Regions from separate parts of the Homo sapiens genome. Here region 2 is linked to region 1. The links come from fine-mapping of genetic effects on gene expression. Tissue or cell type: prefrontal cortex. Region 1 holds a variant in brackets; the other region holds the start of a gene. All regions are shown on one strand. Distances are from middle to middle.

Region 1 (2,679 bases):
TCTCTTGGTGTGCACACACACGTTAATTCTGCACACATACCTGTGACATTGCAGCTGGCTAGGTTGCCTACTATGGCTCCATGGCCCTGCCCACCCCATAATCCTTCTCCATGTTTTTCATTCCTTTAAAAAACATGGGTCTTTACAACCAAGGGATGCCTAGATATTCCACCAGAGAAGAACATTTCATAAGCAAGCATGCATGCCCATGTCTGTGGGTTTGTTAAAATGCATGTGCATATCTACGTGTGTTCCACAGGCCTGGCTTCTCTGGTGAAAAGTGGGGCTCCTATGGTTCCTTGGGTCCTCTTGGCTCTGAGGGCCTCAGGCAGGGGCTCATCAGATACGTGCCCACTCAGGAGAGGTTAAGCTCATGTGGCTCCTTTTAGGAAAGCCAGCCAGACATCAGCCCCGCAACTGAGGCCCATAATCAGGCTAATTTTTCTGACCTTCATCCTCAGGAGGGACAACAGGCAGCCCTAAGCCCAGAGGAGACAGACTTTAAGAGCCTCACCTTGAAAGCCAGATGCTCCAAAAAGTAGCCTGCCCCATTATTCTTCTCAGTCTCAAAACGGCTGCCAACATCAATCCACACTCCCACCTGGTCAAGAAGCCACCAGAAAAGGTTACAAACAAACCACTCCCCAGCCCCCTACTCACACCCCACCTGAGTGACTCAGTACAAGCCCCAGGCAGGGACTTATGAATCCTGGAGTCAGGGAGAGCTGCCCCAGCAGGACCCCTGTGCTTGGGGACACAGTCATGCTTGGAAAACAGGGGCAGCCGAATGACTCGTCACACCACATCATTGCTCTCCTGATTGGCTATCAAGGACCCACAGGGACACTTCTAACTGTGCACATTTACCTGGTCTCACCAGCATACAAATCCTTAAATTCACTCTCAATTTTCAGTTAATTATTTGTTTTTGTCTAAGCATACAACATATCATTTGCAAATAACAACTTATTTTTTCCTTTCTAAAAATTACACGCTGCCTTTGTTCTGGCAATGATTTTATCCTTTCATCATTAAGGAAGGGACTATTGGTTTAGACTGTATATTTTATCACACTAAATATTGTTCCTATAATATCTTTTTTGTTGTTGTTTTTAATCAGCTCTGAACACCAAACAGTGTTGCCTTGGCACCCAATAAGGTAATATTAATTTTCTTGACAGCCTCCTGGTTGCTGTGAAACACGCACCACAGGCTGGGCGCGGTGGCTTATACCTGTAATCCCAGCACTTTGGGAGGCCAAGGCAGGTGGATTACGAGGTCAGCAGTTCGAGACCAGCCTGGCCAATATAGTGAAACCCTGTCTCTACTAAAAATACAAAAATTAGCCAGGTGTGGTGGCACGTGCCTGTAGTCCTAGCTACTTGGGAGGCTGAGGCAGAATTGCTTGAACCCAAGAGGCAGAGGATGTAGTGAGCCAAGATCGTGCCACTGCACTCCAGCCTGGGTGACAGAGAGACTCCATCTCAAAAAAAAAAAAAAAATGTAAAAGAAA[C/T]ACGTACCACTCACCCCACTTGGTCACACGGTCTAGTCTTTTAATTTACTATTTGTTCACAGCTGATTTAAGTTTTTCACATCTACTTTCCTAAGTACTTTTTTTTTTTTTTGACATGGAGTCTCACTCTGTCACGAGACGAGTGCAGTGGTGTGATGTCGGCTCACTCAACCTCTGCTTCCTGGGTTCAAGTGATTCTCCCGCCTCAGCCTCCCGAGTAGCTGGAACTACAGGCGTGCACCACCACGCCCAGCTAATTTTTGTTTTTTTGTGTGTGTGTGTTTTTTTTTTGAGACGGAGTCTCGCTCTGTCACCCAGGCTGGAGTGCAGTGGTGCGATCTTGGCTCACTGCAAGCTCTGCCTCCCAGGTTCATGGCATTCTCCTGCCTCAGCCTCCCGAGTAGCTGGAACTACAGGCGCCCGCCACCACGCCCGGCTAATTTTTTGTATTTTTAGTAGAGACGGGGTTTCACCGTGTTAGCCAGGATGGTCTCAATCTCCTGACCTTGTGATTCGCCCGCCTCGGCCTCCCAAAGTGCTGGGATTACAGGCGTGAGCCACCGCGTCTAGCCTAATTTTTGTATTTTTAGTAGAGGCGGGGTTTCACCATGTTGGCCAGGATGGTCTCAATCTCTTGACCTCGTGATCCGCCTGCCTCGGTCTCCCAAAGTGCTGGGATTATAGGCATGAGCCACTGCGCCCAGCCAAGACTTTTTTTTATTGTATAAATTTATGGGGTACAAGCACAATTTTTAGAAATTTCTATCCACACCTGAAACTCCATTTTTTTCTTTTTTTTTTTTTTTAAGACAGAGGGCCTTGCTCTGTCACCCAGGCCAGAGTACAGTGACATAATCATGGCTCACTGCAACCTCTTATTCCTGGGCTCAATCGATCCTCCTGCTTTGGCCTCTCAAAGCCCTGGAATTACTGGTGTAAGCCACTGTGCCCCGCCCACAAGTGTGATGTCATTACAGGCACAGAATGCACAAGTAGTCAAATCAGGGATTCTGAATTATCCATCACCAGAATAACAAACCTTGTACCCATTAAGTAATTTCTTTTTTTTTTTTTGAGATGGACTCTCGCTCTCTCACCCAGGCTGGAGTGCAGTGGCTCCATCTCGGCTCACTGCAATCTCTGCCTCCCGGGTTCAAGCGATTCTC
Region 2 (2,679 bases), 160 kb before region 1:
GAAAACTTTCATGATTAATGTACTAGATATTAACGCGGGAGAGGGGGCAGGGGGAAGCCTGTGTTGGTCCTCTCCAGAAAGTTGCACAGCCAGTAGCACCCTTCAGTAGGCTTCAGGCATTCCCTGTGGGGCCTTGCTAGCTGGCACCCAGCCGTATGCTGCTAAAACAAACCTGAGCACCAGTGATTCACACTGTTCCTGAAAGCAAGTTACTTGGTGGAACCTATCCCTCTTTAACAAATGAACAGTCCTGTCTCTTTCCAGGACCAGAGTCCTGCAGCAATTAAGCATGCAACACTTGGGAAGCTATCTGACGGAGACTACCAGTTGCTCCAAAAAATTTTAAACTCCTTAGACATTATAGGCCCTGATAGCACTCTCTTTTTCATTTACTCTTTTCATTTAATGCTTTCACAAATATTCCTAGGACACTCACAGGTGAAGTTTGGCACTGAGCAGGTAAGGCTGAAAGAGTCTTGCTCCTGTTACTCTCCATTGCCAAATTCTCTATTGCGGCTAACTTCTGCACACCACAGCTGCCCAATAAAATCTGTCAGGCACGCAAGCCCACCTCAAATTGCTGCTCCTTTGTGAAGCTTTACCTCTGTTCGCCACCGGTAACTCTTACCTGGCCTTTGTGTGGCCTCCCTTTCAATGTAGAATTCTCGTGTTAGTCTTATGTGCCAGCCTCCTACCCCTCTATCCTGCTAACTTGACTCAACTTGTAGGACAGCGCAGGTGCCATTTACAGGGGGACTTCCTTGACCTCCTGAGCCCTATTCTATACAACCAGAGCTTAGGAAAAAAAAACAGTCCAGCACTCAGAGGAATGGATGTTAACAGCCTGAGCAGCTCCCACCCCCTCCCACACAAGAACAGCTCCAAACATCATTCCTCCTTGGACTTTCCTCCTCCCTGGGCCTACCTCAAATGTACACATGTGAAACATTCACTAAACCCGAAGATGTCTGCACACGACAGCTCTATTCATACTCCTCACCCAACAAATTCCACTCTCCTCAAGAAAGCCTAGGGGTTTGTGGGAGGTGGGTCTGGCGGCAGAAGGAAAGCGAGGTCACGGAGACCACATCCCTGAATGATGCCTGGCTCGACTCAAACGCAACACGCGTGAATGCTAGGGCAGGCTGCTCCTGCGCGGCCCTCCTCCACGGAATGCCAGGGAGGGAGCGCAAAGCCACCAGCGCGGCGGAGCTGGTGCGCCTCCGGCCCGCCTCTCCGGTAACGGGTCGCGCCGCACTGAGTCCTTGCAGCAAACCTGCCGAATCCCGCCCGTGGACCTCTAAACACCGGGCGGGGCCGGGTGTGGCGGCGCGCTCGGACGTTCGTCATTCCTCCGCGCCCTCCGCCTGCCAGCTGATTGGCCCCTGGGCCAGGGGCGGGGCACTCGCGGCGGAGGCAAGCGGCGGCGCGCGGACGGTTGGTCCAGTTCTCCGGCCTGGCGGCAGGCAAGTCTAGCTCGGCGCTGTCGGATACTTGGGGTGAGCGGAAAGCATGGCGGGGACCTCCGCGCCAGGCAGCAAGAGGCGGAGCGAGCCCCCGGCGCCTCGCCCCGGCCCGCCGCCGGGCACCGGGCACCCCCCGAGCAAGCGGGCCCGGGGCTTCTCCGCAGCCGCTGCCCCGGACCCTGACGACCCGTTCGGCGCGCATGGGGACTTCACTGCCGACGACCTGGAGGAGCTTGACACCCTCGCGTCACAGGCCCTGAGCCAATGTCCGGCCGCGGCTCGGGACGTGTCCAGTGAGTGCTCCTCGCGGCCTTTTGCTCGGAGGGAGTTGTCAACCGCGCCAGATCCCCTTGATGGCTGTGGCTTCGGAACCTCGCGGCCAGCACTGCCTTTTCGCCTTTTTAAAATATGGGAACACCCTGATTTAAGCAGCGGTTGTCTTCCAGAAGGTCCTTTGATTTTAGGGGGAAATGCATTAGCCAGGTCAAACAGCCGATTTGAAACACAGAAGGCTAAGTTGACATTTTACGTTATTTTCTAAAGTTTAGGCCACTTGGTTCTTGGTTCTAAGCAGAGATCCTTGGAACACACCTACCACCACCATCAGAACCATCACTACCCATGCATGGGGACCCATTCTTGTGACAAGTTTGAGCGGCTTTAGATCTTATGAAGCCCACTGTCTCCCTTGGGCAGTGTGAGCATGGGAGGAGCCAGACACAGGCAAGAGATGAAATAAATTTATTCTTTTATACAACCAGTAAACTGTGCTAGGTGCCCAAACGTGAGGAACTGCAGCTGACCTTACAATGAACAAAATACAAAAACTGTCCTTCATGGAGCTTACATTCTAGTTGAGGAGTGAGTGAAGTCTTGAGGACTCCCAGAAAGAGAAATGTTTTGAGTGCACCTTGCATCTGTACTTGGGTGTCTCAAGGCACCTTAAACTCAACACGATCATTTCCTGGAAACCCAGTCCTCCTCCAGCACTTCTAGCATGGTGCCGGCAAAGCAGACATTCAGAGAATGATGACCAGATGTTCCACAAGGAAGTAACTAGCACGACTCTCCATCCAGTGGCACAAAGCGACTCTTCCCCTTTCCTTGACTCTACATCTAATTTATTTGGAAAGCATGTCAAGCTTACCTTCTTAATCCTTCTCTGGAGTCTATCCTATTCACATTGCTTCTACCAGCTGCCTGATCTGTGTTA

Direction of the effects. Positions count from the first base shown, and alleles are read on the strand shown. Sizes are in standard deviations (SD) of each study's normalised expression.
For the expression in prefrontal cortex of the gene that starts at base 1,404 in region 2, allele T in region 1 goes with a lower level than allele C (moderate effect, 0.55 SD a copy in BrainSeq).

What was found. PIP is the estimated chance that this variant, and not a neighbour inherited with it, causes the effect.
Region 2: it holds the start of ATRIP, and the variant in region 1 is fine-mapped to the expression of ATRIP in prefrontal cortex (BrainSeq, PIP 0.91).

What each region holds. Positions count from the first base shown.
Region 1 is chr3:48,605,256-48,607,934 of GRCh38, forward strand. UQCRC1 (ubiquinol-cytochrome c reductase core protein 1) reads right to left here. Exons shown (of 13, transcript NM_003365.3): 3 at 515-601. Among named protein-coding and RNA genes, the nearest start is that of SNORA94, 1.4 kb to the left of the region's middle. The variant C/T (reference allele first, on the strand shown) is at 1,514.
Region 2 is chr3:48,445,334-48,448,012 of GRCh38, forward strand. ATRIP (ATR interacting protein) reads left to right here and starts at 1,404. Exons shown (of 13, transcript NM_130384.3): 1 at 1,404-1,759. The coding sequence starts at 1,513. ATRIP-TREX1 (ATRIP-TREX1 readthrough) reads left to right here and starts at 1,446. Exons shown (of 15, transcript NR_153405.1): 1 at 1,446-1,759. It also overlaps a transcript of CCDC51 not described here. RefSeq lists a silencer at 1,349-1,708.